Linked DNA regions of Homo sapiens: regions 2 and 3 are each linked to region 1. The links come from fine-mapping of genetic effects on gene expression. A gene starts in region 1. Each other region holds a variant in brackets. All regions are shown on one strand. Distances are between the middles of the regions.

The links. PIP is the estimated chance that this variant, and not a neighbour inherited with it, causes the effect. A credible set is the group of variants that fine-mapping cannot tell apart.
Region 2: its variant is the best candidate, but not a certain one, in a credible set for the expression of FUT8 in testis (GTEx, PIP 0.51).
Region 3: its variant is the best candidate, but not a certain one, in a credible set for the expression of FUT8 in fibroblasts (GTEx, PIP 0.54).

Annotation. Positions count from the first base shown.
Region 1 is chr14:65,410,039-65,415,265 of GRCh38, reverse strand. FUT8 (fucosyltransferase 8) reads right to left here and starts at 2,536. Exons shown (of 11, transcript NM_001371533.1): 1 at 2,052-2,536. FUT8-AS1 (FUT8 antisense RNA 1) reads left to right here and starts at 2,649. Exons shown (of 1, transcript NR_024334.1): 1 at 2,649-4,674. RefSeq lists enhancers at 1,231-1,795, 3,038-3,357 and silencers at 1,718-1,907, 1,918-2,037, 2,338-2,497.
Region 2 is chr14:65,260,628-65,265,854 of GRCh38, reverse strand. No RefSeq gene overlaps it. Among named protein-coding and RNA genes, the nearest start is that of LINC02324, 41 kb to the right of the region's middle. The variant G/A (reference allele first, on the strand shown) is at 3,036.
Region 3 is chr14:65,240,716-65,245,942 of GRCh38, reverse strand. No RefSeq gene overlaps it. Among named protein-coding and RNA genes, the nearest start is that of LINC02324, 21 kb to the right of the region's middle. The variant A/C (reference allele first, on the strand shown) is at 2,081.

The DNA of each region.
Region 1 (5,227 bases):
CTTTTGGTCATAAAAATCTGGTTTTGGGTGTTTTAAAAGTTCAAACAGCTATTAAGCTATACTTTGCTTTGGCACTAGCTCCCCCTCCAGACCAATGTACTAATATAACAGCATTTTTAAAAATAATAAGTTAACAGTTTTTTCCAATCCACTGGCAAATTTTAAGATTCACCACTTTTAAGGACACTCCAATTGCGTAAAAATAACTGGTAAGAATTTGCAACAAAACAATGCAGGATGTAATCAGAATTAGTTTTGTTTTGTTTTTTTCGATTCCATACATCTTAAACAGAACTGATTTGTAGGAAAACAACTTCAGGTGACTTTTTAAATTCAAAAATATCCTCAAAATATAACCTATATAAGGCCGTACTTTATGGAAATTATTTTGAATCACTATCCTATTACACAAGACACTCTTCAAGTTAACTCACAACTTGACCAAAGATACATTTTTGCATCTGTTTCTGCAATCTATGCAAGTTTCATTCCAGCTGTTCAGCTCTTGAATTCAAATAGAATTCTCAATTTATAAGGCAGCAAAAAGAAAATCCATGTCTTGGAACTACCTTTGTACGTGTCTTATAGCCTATTCATCTCTAACTCCCTGCATTTTTTACACACTAAACCTGTGAAATCACAATTACAAATGCTTGAATTCCCACCTTTTCAATACTACTGTAGTATTTACAAATCAAGTAATTAAGATTTTCTATACACATACCAGATTTCACAAGGACAGCAAGGTACAGGGCCTTATTATTTGGCATAGGGTTTTAAGATGTTTTTACAGTTATTTTAAAGAGCAGAGACTACAACTCCATTATTTCTCATATATCTGATATACTGTAGTGCTTAAATAATAATTTCTCTCCTAAAATACTTTCTATATGATGCACCTATTTAAAGAATTAGTCATAAAACATAGAATGTAAATTTAATCAAGAAAATAAACATGCACCTAACCGCCGGAATAACAAGAAAAAAAAAATCTATAATGAAACCTGCCTACAGTTTTCATAGAGGCAAGCCAGTTAAGTCAGTTACTTGAGATGCGTTTAACTCTAAACTGACACAAAACTTGTGTTGAATTTGTTCCGCAAAACCTTGAAATTTGGGGTTATGTACTACAGAATTTGGCTTTTCTGGGTCCACCTTCCTGAGTGGGTTTAAATAAACTGTGAATAATTAAAACATAGGAAGGAAAAAAACACCACCTGTCCGTGCCTTTAACCAAGGCCTCAATCTATATATTATATGGCAAAATGCTAAAATAAAAGCTCATCCGGGACAAACCCTAAGCATGACACTGCCACTTAAGAAATACACTGCGTCTCTGAAGATTGCAATCCCCACTGTGAAGAAAGAACAGGTGCTGCACCCGACAACCCACTCAATCCTGCAGGACAAACCTCCTAGAACTGATAAATATGGACTCATTTAACCTTCCCAAATAAGTTGATACTCAAAAGCCGCCAGCTCGTCATTTGCACATCAAAAGGGAGTACAGCTGCACTCAAGCCTTTAACTGCCCTGCATCAGTCCCTCGCGGATCTTTGTGAGGGTCCACTCCCTGCTTTCTAGCCCGAGCAGCACTCAGAAAGAGCCCATAACGCACGGGCATCTTCCTCCCCACAAACCGCGACTCCAGGGACCGAGCTGCTGACGAAGGGAAGGTAGGTGTGGAGGGGAAACGACGGACACCTCCCACCCCCGCCCCCAACCCTTCTCCTTCCCTAGGCTTTGGCCCCTGCCCTAGGCAAGGATGCGCGACGCCGAGGGCAGCAGCGGCGCAGCTCCGCGTCCCGGCTGGAGAGGCGGGCGCCCCTCACCCTCTGCCCGCGCCCCCGGGGCTGCGCCAAGGCATCCGCCAGAGCGTCCCGGGGGCTCCCTCCCCACTTTTCCGAGAGCCGCTGGTTAACCGGCAGCAGTTGCAGCAACAGGCCCGGGTGAACGAGCAGGGACAGCCGCGGAGCCTCCTCAGATCCCGCGCGCAGCCCAGCCCAAGACCCCGAGGCGCGCGGGGCCCGGCTCCCAAAACGCCCCCTTACCCCAGGCGGGAGCAGAGGCGGTCTCCGCCGCTCCCCGTCGCAGCTGCCAAAGCCACAGCCCTCAGCCGCAGCTGCCCCACGATGGGGGAGTGGGAAGGGTGGCTGAGTGGAGGATGCTACTCCCGACCGAACGGAGAGGAAGAAACGGAAACAGGAACCGCCGCCGCCGCTTAACGGAGCCTTCGGCGCCACTGACTGAGGCAGAGCGCGAGGCGGCGCGAGCCGGGCAGTCGCTGACAGCGCGAGACCGAGAGCGAGCTGGGTCCAGGGCGCGCGACCCTGAGCAGTGCCGGCCCCATTCCGCGGGGAGACGAAGGGACGGGTCGGCTGGGGCCAGGCGGCGGGGGTGGGATGGGGAGGGGGCCTGGAGAGGAGGGAACCGGCTGCTCGGGTCGGCCGGAGATAACGCGCGCACGCGCCGGAGCGGCTCTGACAACGAGCGCAGGCGGGGAAGCCTCGGCCAGCGCCGGCGTGCGCGCGCGAATGGGGGAGCGCGCCCCTCGGCGTTCCTGGCTTCTGGGAGAGGGCGCGCATGCGCCGGCCGCTGCCACCTACGGCGACCCTGGCATGTGCCAGGGATTCTCCCCGCCCCCTTCCTCGCTGCGCCGGTGGAGAGCGTAGCAGCAGCATCCACCGCCTAGCAGAGCCGCGGGCCACAGCGGGACGGCACAGTTCCAGCAGGGCAGCGGCTGCGCACGCCGGCTCCGGCTCGCACACAGGCGTAGGCCGCCCTCTACCGCCTGAAGGCCGGAGGCTGAGCGGGGCGCGAGCGGATCCTGGATCCCGGGAGGAGACTCGCCTCCAGAGAATGCTGTGCTCCCTACAGCGCCGGGAATGGACCGGCCCGTGCCAGCTCAGTCGGCGGCCCTAGGGGGCACCCGCACTAGAGGTTTTGAAGCTGGCTCCTTGCTACTTTTAGGGGTGCGCGCTGCTGCTGCTCAGCCCCTGCAGCCCGCATTTGGCCGCTTGACTGCTGCTTCCAGCGCGATCCTACAATGGCATCGCTCCCCCAGGAGACTCAGCGAAGCCCTACTTTATCTTGTAAGAGCTGTTTCCACATTCACTCGAAGAGAAAGACCCCCCCCACGAGGGCCTGAGTTCGATGCCCGGCCTCTCCCGACCCGCGGCTGCGACAGCCCCTCTGAGGCGGAAGTTTATTTAGTACGGGAAAGAGAACAGCACGGGGAGAGGGGAGAGGCTTTGCCCTAGGATGCGTCCTACCCGCTCGGACTCGGAAAATTCCCGGCGCCCGCGATGCAGAGCAGTGGACCGAAGGGCTGCCCCAGAGCAGCCCAGACCGCCAGCTGAGCGGGAGGACCGGAGCGCGCCGCCCCAGCACACAAAGTAGTCGCGGGACGAGGGGTGCCGCCGAGGCCAATCAGAGCTGCGCGCCGCGTGAGTGGAGTGCGAGCCGGCCAATCAGAGGGCCGGAAGATGAGCTTCCCGTTCCAAACTCTTCCCTGTAGCCTTGGGACCCAGATCCCAAGCCTGGGGCGCTTTACGGTGGGAGAGCGAAATGGTGCCCTTAAGACAAGAATCATTTCTCTAGGCTTGGGCATTTTAAAGTACATACCGGGGATACTTATCCCAAAGCAAGTAGCGGCGGCCTTTTAGATGTTAAATATTAAAAGATCACAGAAAGGAGATTTAAGAGGCAGTGGCCTGTCAAGGTTGCAATCTGCCTAATATTCATAAATTCACATATTTATTGAGACCTTCTTATGTACCAGGAACTCTATCACAGATACACAAATAAGGTACTGCTGATTCAAAAGAAAATCCCTTGTCCTCAAGCAGCTCAGGTTGTGAGGGAGGCTTTCCTAGACCTTGAGACTCGTATTTATTGTCAGCTCTTTAAACAAAAAGCACTCTATGAAGTGCTGTACTTTACAGTCGTTTTTATGATTATCTCCCTGTGAGAAAAGAAAATTGAAAGGAAAGTAGAGTGACTTGTCCAAGATCACACAGAAGATGTACTAGCAGAGCCAGAATTATGTTCTAGCTCAGTTTGGGTGTCATCATTCAATAAAATAATTCAATAACAATTTGTAAATGCATGGATGCTCTCTCCCATGAGATTTCTGTACTAAACGTATAAGCAGGACAAAATTCTGGTATAAAAGTGACACACTTTGGTTGTTGGAAATGAACACAAATTTTAGACTTATGTGGGATTAAAGGTAAAAATCTTACCAGTCATACTTTAGATAATTTTTAGAAGTCAGAGGTGGGGTGGATATTTACTTCTTAGTTTAAACACAGCATTTTAAAAATATTTTAACAAGCAAGCGTAACTTTTTTTTTTTAAGATAGAAGAAGCAGGAAGGATCACTTAAGCCCAAGAGTTCCAGGCTGCAGTGCCACATCGTGCCTGTCAGTAGCCACTTCAGCCTGGGCAACATAGCAAGACCCTCATGTCTAAAATTAAAAATAAAATTTAAAAAAAAGAACTACTTCTAGTTGGTTAATAATCATGATAGTTTACACTGTATAATACTTTGAGATACCCAAGTACAAAGCTTTACATTTGCCTAAAAATTCCATTTTTGTCTGGTGTTCCATTTTTACTTCCAAAATCCTAGGAATTAAAGCACTTATTTTCCCTACCTCCTTCCAACTGAAAAAAAAAAAAAAAAAAACCTGTCCTAGGAATGTTTTGCCCAGGATTTGGTGCATTTGTATAGAACAGTATAATATACGTTAAAATAACAAATAACTTTGGTATCTCTTGAATACACTCAGAAACTAATTCTTCAGTGGTTTTGAAGTCTGCTTTGTTGAATCAATGTGCTTCTCCACCTGTGATGGAACATTATTATCAAAACCCTTTCCAAGGCAGGCTCAGGATTTAGCTGCCATCCCAAAACTGGAGGTCTCTGTCAAACAACTGATATTTGAGAACAAGTCTTTACACATTAAGTTCCAAGCCAATCATGAATTTCCAGGAAATTCACTTATGAAAGGGAATTTTATACCCTGCCTCTTCTCAGTGTGGATAACAGTCCCAGCTTTTAAAAAATACATTTATTTTACTCTCTCCAGACAAGAAAATTCCTAGAACTCAGTCGTTCTCTTGCCAGGTTAAATTCTGAGAGAGAAGGAATCCCCCAAAAGGTTCTAAACATCACTGGCCATCAGAAAGTATCTGTGTCAAAAGCATTTTTCCACAAGCTGCA
Region 2 (5,227 bases), 150 kb after region 1:
TTCTGTTTTGGTTTGTTTGTTTTCCTAAGGCTTTATGCAGATTTCTGCAACCAAAAGTTGAGACAGGTTTGAAAACCTGTTTGTGAGGGTAAGATTTTTCTACTTGACCTCAAATCAGTCAGGGAAGATGGGTTCAGCAAATCAGGCAGTCACTCTGAGGTGTTAGGAGAGGTTTTTATTAGGGGAGGAAAACTACCTGCAAGACTTGGTTGGGAATCCACCATGTCTACAGGGCAAAAAGGCACAGTGGACGCAGCTCCGATGAGGACTACATATCAGGTAGGAGCAGAGAAAGAGTCTCCCGTGGCTGGGGGCCCAGAAAAGCCCCAGGTCAGGGTCTACAGGAGTCTGTCTCCCACCTGGGGTGCCATGATGTCAGCTCCCTCATATATGGAAGTAGATTAGGCTCTGGGAGGCCTAGAGTCACTTACCTCTGGATCTGAACTGTAAAAATTCAATTTCCTGAACAATAAATAAGAATAAAATAGGCCGGGCACGGTGGCTCACGCCTGTAATCCCAGCACTTTGGGAGGCCGAGGCGGGTGGATCACCTGAGGTCAGGAGTTCAAGGATAGCCTGGCCAACATGGTGAAACCCTGTCTCTACTAAAAATACAAAAAATTAGCTGGGCGTGGTGGCACGCCCCTGTAATCCCAGCTACTAGGGGGGCTGAGGCAGGATGATCGCTTGAACCTGGGAGGCAGAGGTTGCAGTGAGCCAAGATCGTGCCACTGCACTCCAGCCTGGGCAACAGAGCGAGACTCTGTCTCAAAAAAAAAAAAGAATAAAGTAAGATTAGACTAGATCAAACAAACAGGCCGGGTGTGGTTGCTCACACCTGTAATCCTAGCACTTTGGGAGGCCAAGGCAGGTGAATCACAAGGTCAGGAGTTCAAGACCAGCCTGGTCAATATGGTAAAACCCTGTCTCTACTAAAAATACAAAAATTAGCTGGGCGTGGTGGCAGGTGCCTATAATCCCAGCTACTTGGGAGGCTAAGGCAGGAGAATTGCTTGAACCTGGGGGTGGGGAGGCAGAGGTTGCAGTGAGTCAAGATCACGCCATTGCACTTCAGTCTGAGCAACAGAGTGAGACTCTGTCTCAAATAAATAAATAAATAAATAAATAAATAAATAAATAAATGACAATCACACATCAGGCTGGCCTAGCTCAGGGGCAGGGACAATGGGCAGAGCCTCACCTGCTCTCACCTTGCCTGTCCTTCCTCCTCCTCTAGCAGTAACCAAGGACTCTCGGTGGATGCCCTTGACTGAAACCCAGGGTGAAAATAACCAGATTTGATTATTTCTAAGGTAAATGATGTTCTGGGCAACAATGGGCTTTGGGGGAAGGGGTACTGATTTATAGTGTCTGCTGATTTCAGTGGTGTAAATACTACCACCATGGCTAAATTCGAACTTACCAACAACACATCACTGAATGCAGCATTGGCCATGCAATCGCATATCATATAGTAAAGTAATTATGAAGTAACAAGGGATTTTTTTTCTTTTTGTTTTTTGAGATGGAGTCTTGCTCTGTTGCCCAGGCTGGAGTGCAGTGGCACTAGCTCGACTCAACTGCAAACTCCACCTCCCAGGTTCAAGTGATTCTCCTGTAGAATTGTATCTTTATTCTCCTGCCTCAGCCTCCTGAGTAGCTGGGATTACAGGCACCCACCACCACACCCAGCTATGTCTGTATTTTTAGTAGAGGCAGGATTTTGCCATGTTGCCCAGGCTAGTCTCGAACCTCTGACCTCAAATGATCCACCTGCCTCAGCCTCCCAAAGTGCTGGGATTACAGGCATAAGCCACTGCGCTCTACTGAAATAATCAGTTTTGAATATTTATTACCTTTGTTTTAATACGGTTTATTTGATTGTAAGTTTATATAATTCAATTTTTTGAGAACGGCTGTGTTTAACAATCAGCTTACAAAATTCCTGAAAATTTAACAATTGGTTCTTGCAAACTGGTATCCAGGATACCACTCACTATCAAGGACCTTTTTAGCTCCAACCTTCTAAATGTTTATACTAAGGCATAAACCATTTGAAGCTGGGAAGGGGCAAGTGGGAATAATCCTAGGGATTTTGAGAGTGTGCTCAGGAGGAAAAAAACAAAACAAAACATGTTTTCAATGTCACATCCATCACAGAGAAGATAACTTGGCAAAAAACAGGTGTCCAGTCAGTGAATGATACAATGTCTCAGTGAGGCAATGACTCAACCCTCACTCAGTAGGCTCTGTACTTCAAGTTATTTTTTCAGTTAATACTAGCGAGGGTTTATACTCATCCAGCCACATTCTATCATCCAGCCTTCCAGTGGGCCAGGGAGCACCAACTGTGCTGATACCTGTGGCAAAAAGGTGCCAGCAATGCACTGTTAGTGTGTTGACTAACTTTACACAGGCTCCAACAAGGACTTCGTCCAATGACCCAAGCTGATTCCAGTGGATAACTCAGCCAGGTCAAGAGGCCCACGTGGGCCTCCAGGCCACATGATCACCCGCTATGGGTGGGTATGATCTTACTGTGTCTTATCACTCGCCCTGGCTACTATCTCCCTTCTGGTAGGATCAGTGTTTAATTCATATTTTTGTACTTCCATTCTTCCCGGAGTTTTTGAGAATAGTGTGCATGTTCAATAGCCAAGTAGTTAAGAGCATGGATTCTGAGCCAGACTCTCTGGGACCAAAAATTCTAGTTCTGTGACTTACTAGCTGTGTAATCTTGGGCAAGCTGCTTAACTTCTCTGGACCTCAATTTTATCCTCTATAAAATATGAATAATAACAGTACCTACTTCACAGCAATATTGGGAAGATTAAATGAGTTTTGTACATACCCAGTATACCCTGTACTTAGAACAATGCCTGGCACATAGAATATACTATTTAAATGTCAGCTGTTATTATTACATAATATATATATGTTCTATTGGCCAGGCACAGTGGCTCACACCTGTAATCCCAGCACTTTGGGAGGCCAAGGTGGGCAGATCACGAGGTCAGGAGATCAAGACCATCCTG[G/A]CTAACACAGTGGAACCCCGTCTCTACTAAAAGTACAAAAAATTAGCCAGGTGTGGTGGCGGGCACCTGTAGTCCCAGCTATTTGGCTGAGGCAGGAGAATGGCGTGAACCCGGGAGGCGGAGCTTGCAGTGAGCCGAGATCATGCTACTGCACTCCAGCCTGGGCAACAGAGCGAGACTCGTCTCAGAAAAAAAAAAATAATTATATATATTTATATATATATATATATTCTATTATTATTATGTAATAGATGAATGAATGCAGGTATCCAAAAACATGGGGAAAAAGACCCTGAATGGTTGTGTAAGTATTCTTCTGGAAAACAAGGCCAAGTATGGAATTATAATAATAAATACAATACAAAAATAGCAGTAACGTTGGCTGTGTCTCTGAAATGTAATTACTAAATTTTTAAAATGCACTTTACAAGCATTATTTTACTAACTCCTCATAAAAATCCTAATAGGAAGGAACTACCATTCTGTATATTACAAAATTAAGAAAAGTGAGGCTTGTGGAGGGTAACTGCTATAATCTGAAGGTTTGTGTCCTCCCAAAATTCACATGTTGAAATCTAATCCCAAAACGATGGTATTTAGAAGGGGGGCCGTTGGGAGGTAAGTAGGTCATGAGGGCAGAGCCCTTGGGAATGAGATTAGTGCTGTCATAAAGAGGCTCCAGGCTGGTCGCTGTAGCTCATCCCTGTAATCCCATTACTTTGAGAGACAGAGGCAAAAGGATCACTTGAGCCCAGGAGTTTGAGAACAGCCCAGGCAACATAAGGAGTCCCTATCTCTACACAAAATTTTAAAAAGTCAGCTGTGGTGGCATCTACTTGTGGTCCCAGCTATTTGTGAGGCTGAGGTGGGAGGATTGCTTGAGCCCAGGAGGTTGAAGCTGCAGTGAGCTATGATCATGCCACTGCACTCTAGGCTGGATGCCAGAGCAAGACCCTGTCTTAAACAAACAAACAAACAAACAAAAAAGGGACCCCAGAGAGATTCCCTCACTCCTTCCACAATGTGAGGACACAGTGAGAAGGCAGCTGTCTGTGAACCAGGAAGCAGGCCCTCATCAGACACCAAATCTGCTGGCACCTTGATCTTGAACTTCCCAGCCACCAGAACCATGAGAAATAAATCAGTGTTGTTTCTAAGCCACCCAGTCTACTTTCTCAACACCACAGTCAATGACTCAAATACATGTCCTATGACTCCAGCACTTGAGCTCTTAACTGCTAGCCTATACAGCTATATCCACAGCCCCAGCAGCCAGCTCCTGGCCTCTAGCCCACCTGTCATCTCTCCTCTCACTTATCCCTCCACGTCCATCCAAGACTTACCTCTTTTCTGAAGATTTCTCAGATTTCCCCTTGGTAGGAAGCTCCCAGCTCTTGGATATACTGTGTGCCCCTCTCTCCTGTCCGTGAGTATGTTACCTTGGACTCACTTTGTCTATGTCACACAGAGGTTCTTTGTTTCTCCCCTTGAGAAGGAAAGTTTTTTCCAAGTCAGAGGTGTTGTTTCTCTTTGGTTTCTATCTTTGCGGCTCCCAAACATCCTGGTGGTAGTGATCATTACCAGTTGCTGAGCACCAAATGCTTTACATGCATTGTTTTCCTTAATTCTTACAATAATCCTATTATCCTATTAGGTGGACACAATTTCTGTCTCCATTTTCCAGATGAGGAAACTGAGGCTAGAAGAGGTTAAATGACTTGGTACAGTTACTTGAGGATCAGAGCTAGGATTTAAACCTAGGTCTGTTTAATCTCAAGCTCACATTCTTAATCACATCTGTTTTTAATCATGTTTGGTTCTTAAATATACACTGGAGAGGGAATGAGTCTTAGCCTTGACCAAAGCTCCCAGAGCCATGAGGGCCTTGAAAAAAAAAAAAAAAAGTGAGAAAAAAGGATGTCTGGAGATTTTGCAAGATCTGGGTTAAATTCACAACCAGGCTAAGACACTACCCCCAAGCCCCATGACACTGTCAATCCCCGCATAAACCTGCCCTGTGTATTGTTCGGAGTTCTCCAGAGACTGTGCCTATGTGTCTAGTGCACTCAAGACTGCTACCCCAAGTGTCAGAAATTTTAAAATGAAAATAATAGAAAATTCAGCTGAGTAGAACTAAGCCCTGTTCTAACCAAGCACCTTCAATTTCTCACAGTCACCTGGGCTCAGTGGTA
Region 3 (5,227 bases), 170 kb after region 1:
CTGGGGAGAAAAGGTGAATGCTTGGGAGACTCGGTGATGGTGACTTAACTTCTCCCATCTGTGTACTTTGAGATGTGAACCGCATGTTTTTGAGCTCACTTCCTGCCCTGATTTTCTGTGATTCTTCCTTCCCAAAAGGGGGCACTGAGGCAGGAGCTACAATAGTCTTTCAAACTGTTAGGGCCAGGGCAGAGACTGCCAAATGCTTAGTCCTCGGTTTTGACCTAACCAGTGGGTCAGATTGCTAGGGATGGGGTGGGCATCAAATGTCTTATTGCCTGTGAAGTAGAGGTTTGGGGAAAGTAGAGAACAAGTACCTCCTGCTCTCCCATGCATAACCCATAGAGAAATAACAATTTCCCCGGAATTTCGAGTCCATACCTCCACCTCTCTGCTGGTGTGCCAAGCCTGTCCAGCTTCTTTCCTGTCACAAAAGAGAAGGGTCCCTCCACATTTTAGGGCTAACTCATCCACCACACATTTGATCTCATCTCCCTCTGGCTTCTCTGTTTCTTCTTCCTCCAACCATTTTTTCTTTTTTTTTCGAGATGGAGTTTCACTCTTGTTGCCCAGGCTGGAGTGCAATGATGTGATCTCGGCTCATTGAAACCTCCACCTCCCGAATTCAAGTGATTCTCCTGCTTCAGCCTCCCAAGTAGCAGGGATTACAGGCACCGGCCACCACGCCCAGCTAATTTTTGTATTTTTAGTAGAGATAGGGCTTCACCATGTTGGCCAGGCTGGTCTGGAACTCCTGACCTCGGGTGATCCACCCGCCTCAGCCTCCCAAAGTGGTGGGATTACAGGCGTGAGCCACTGTGCCCGGCCTCTTCCTCCAACATTTCAAACCCTCCCTCTCCTGCCCCATGTCCAAGCCTAGCTGCACTTCTTTTAAAAATCCTGAATTAAGCTCAGATGACCCTTAGCACTCCCTCTACTCCTGCTTTCCCCTTCCAGAATTCTCTCCAGTTATATATAACTGCTGACTTCACTCCTCACATATCTGCTCATTTCTCAGATCCTGACAGTAGAGGGTCCAACCTCTATCACTTTCCAGAAACTTCAGATATTATGAATAATCCCCAACTGACCAGCCCTATGCCTCATCAGTCCTCATGTTCTTCGCTCCATGATACTGGGCCTGTGTTGCCTTCCCTGTCTCTGGATGGACCCCTCTTTCCCATTGACTCCCGTTTCACTGCTCTGCTACTGCTTTTCCTTACTCCATAGCCATTCCCCATCATTGCTTGGTGGCCTCAAGGAAAGTCTGGAGGACACCAGATAGAAACACCCCAACTTCTCACCTGCAAACCTGGAAATTCATCGTAACCGGCATTTCATTTTTCTGGTTAAAATGGAACTTGTCTCTTTACTGACTTGAGCCCATTCCTCCATCTTGAAGGAAATCTCATCTCCTCCCATCTCCTCACCTCTCTCTAACAATTATCCTGTCATCTTGTTGAGTCTTTAATCTCCTCTCTGCTGTTCTTTCTCAAAATCATGAAAAAATCCATAAGTCTCCATCTCTTAAAAAAAATACTCTTGTTTTCACTGCCTTTTATACCTAATTCACAGTCAAACTTCCTGAAAGGGTCATGTATACTTCTTATCTCCCCTTACACCCTTCCTTGTCACTCCTCTGTCCTCTGAAAACAGTCTCCTCAAGATTACTAATGACCTCCGTGTTGTCCAAATCTCTTGGACTTTTGTTGCCCCTTTGAGTTACTCTCAACAGCTTTGACATTATTCACCACTTCCTGCCTCTCCTCGCCCAGCTCCTCCTCCTGCCCTGACTGCTTCCTCTCTGTGTCCCTGACATGCCCCTCTCTCTCCCTCTCTCTTTTCTCTCCCTCTCTCTCCTCCCTGTCTCTCTCTCTCCCTCCTTCTGTCTCTCTTTCTCCTGTGCAGCAGTGACACTCCCTGTGCTCCTTGGCTTTCTGGCTTGGGCCTTCTTCTTCCCTCACTTTCCCCGAGTGATCTCATCCACTCCTTCACTCCACAAATATTTACTGAGCACACACCACGAATCAGGCAAGGTTCTAAGCCCTGAGGTATCACAATGAAGAAGACAAAGTCCCGG[A/C]TGTTATAGAGTTCACATTTACCAAGGTGTCAATTCTGTCTGGATGCCCGTGACACCGAGCTGTCTCCAGCCCAGATCTTTCTCTCCTGTCTGCTTAACACCTCTACTTGGACATCCCACAAAAAACGGGACTTGTCCAGAGGTAAAGTTTTCATCCTTACTGCCTTCCGGACCAGCTTATCTTCCTATCTCGATTACCCAAACCAGGAGCTGCTCTTTGCATTCATTTGTCATCTTTGATTCTTCACTTTCATTCTCCCCTTCAATCCAGCCTGTAACGAAGTCCTGTCAATTCTACCTCCCAATCCTCCTAAATGCCTCTAGAATCCATCCACTGCTCTTTACGCCCAACACTATTACTCTGACTTAGAGCCATATCCCCTCTTCCCTGGTTCCCACCAGGTGACCCTCTGGTCTTATTCTCTCCCATGCCACACCCTTCAATACATTGTCCGCACTGCAGTCGGAGTCATTGTCTAATGTACCTACAGAACTGATCTCACGACCTCCCTGCTTAAAATTCTTCATTGCCTTTAAAATTAAAGCCAAACCTCTTATCATGGCCCCTGCCTACTTCTCAGTCCTCTCCCCCACCACCCACCTCACTCTCACACACTTTACTGTGTGTGTCTCCTGACACACACAGTAAACTTTTTTTTTCAGTGCCCTGGATGTGCCACATTCCCTCACAACTCCGAACCTTGAAAGTGCTGTTCCTTCAGCTTGGAAGTCTTCCTCACTCCTGACCCGCACCACCTCACCTGGCTAACTCCTATTTACATCAGGCTCAGCTCAGAGGTAACCTCTAGAGCACTTTCCATTAAGGCTGTCGTCTGTGGCAATTGCCCTCCTATGTACTTCCATGTCATCTTGTATTATCCACTCTATTATGATCATCTGATTTCACTGTTTATTTTCTGCGTTCCTCTTCCATGAGACTGTATGCCACAGGAAGGCAGGAACAAAGTCCACATCACTCATACTGTGTCATTGTGTTTCCAGTCTTCAGAAAATACCAATCAAGAAATAACTGTCAAAAATGAATAGTTTCTTGCCTCCCTCCTCCTGCCCTCTAAGTGCAGACATTGCTTAAGATTCATGTTTTCCAGCTTTGCTCGATTTCCTTCTTTATATTTCATGGATTCCTATTACTTCAGTGATTGGATATGTGTGAAGAAATCTCCAATCTACCCCCAAGCTAGATAGCTCTCAGCTCCCAGACTGCATTTCCAATCTCATGCTAGACATTCATGCTTGTAGGTTTTTCCATCATCTCAGATAAAAGATATAAAACATTAAAAGCATGCAAAGGATATATGTGTAAGGATGTGCAATGCAACATTGTCTATAATATAGAAAAATTGGAAACAATCCAAATGCCCATCAAAAGAGAATTGGGTAAATAAACTGTGTACCACTGTGCAGACTAGAAAGATTTATATATTGATGTGAAAAGATGTCCATGATATACCGTTCAGTAAAAAAGCAGCTTCATCTGTGTAAATACATACAGTGCTCTTTTGAATAATTTTCCCTTCCTTTGATCCCAAAGTCAATGATACTCATTTGTATGTTGAACAATGAATTTTATAATGCACACTTCAAATGAATGTATAAGGGAATTGAAAAAAGTACTAGGTATTATCTATTAAGAGACTCCTGTTAACCACACACACAAAAACAGGTTTCAGAACTATAGAGTTTAATTTTATTCAATCATTCAACATGCATTTATTAAGCACCTATTATGTGCCAGTTTCTGTTCCAGGTACTGGGGATATGCAGAGAGCAAGGCAAAGTCCTTGCTCTCACAGTTTTCTTTTTTTTTTTTTTTGAGACAGAGTTTCGCTCTTGTCGCCCAGGCTGGAGTGCAGTGACACGATCTCGGCTCACTGCAACTTCTGCCTCCCGGTTTTAAGCAATTCTCCTGCCTCAGCCTCCCGAGTAGCTGGGACTACAGGCGTGCACCACCATGCCCAGCTAATTTTTTGTATTTTTAGTAGAGACGGGGTTTCACCATGTTGGCCAAGCTGGTCACGAACTCCTGGCCCCAAGTGGTCCACCCGCCTCAGGCTCCCAAAGTGCTGGGATTACAGGCGTGAGCCACTGCACCCGGCTGCTCTCACAGTTTTCTAAATAGACAGTAAGCAAATAAATAGACAGAATTAAATGTCACGTAATGATACGTGGTATGAAGAAACTGAATTATGAGGTGTGCTATTCTGCTTAGGATGCTTAGAGAGGGGCTTTCCAAAATAGTGACAGTTGAGCAGAGACCTGAATAAAAGTGAGGGCGGGAATTACCTGAATATTTGGGGCAAGGATATTCTGACCGGAAGAACCAGCCATCACAGAGGCCTACAGTATTGCCGTGTTTAACTGGTTCTAAAACTGCAAGGCAGCCACAGCAGCTGGAGCAAAGTAGGGGGAGGAAAGAGTGGAGGGAGATGTGGCCGTGGTGTGGGCTCTGGGCTCTGGTGTCCATTCTAAGTGTGATGAAAAGTAAGTCTTCAGAGGTGTTTCTGTTACATGTTAGTGTCTCATTTTTAAAAGTCAGCATAAAATAATTCTGAGATGTGAAACTATAGGAGACTTTCATTTTCAAAACCAATGATGCTCTGATTATTTTTTTTTTTTTTTTTTGCCAAAGTAATACTCACCGTAAAACATTCAAACACATTCAAGCACAATCTTGTGTTTGAATGTTTTACGGTGAGTATTACTTTGGCAATCAGAAAAAAAAATGATTTTTTAAATGTGTGGGCTGGACACAGTGGCTCATGCTTGTAATCCCAGCACTTTGGGAGGCTGAGGTGGGCAGATCACTTGAGCCCAGGAGTTCGAGACCAGTCTGGGCAACATGGCAAAACCCTGTCTCTACTAAAAATACAAAAATTAGCTGGGTGTGGTGGCACACACCTGTAGTCCTAGCTACTCAGGAAGCTAAGGGAGGAGGATAGCTTGAGCCCAGGATAGTCCAGGCTGCAGTGAGCCATGATCACACCACTGCACCCCAGCCTGGGCAACAGAGCAAGACCCTGCCTCAAAAACAATAATAAAAATAATGGCCGGGCGCGGTGGCTCACGCCTGTAATCCCAGCACTTTGGGAGGCCAAGGCAGGCCGATCACGAGGTCAGGAGATCGAG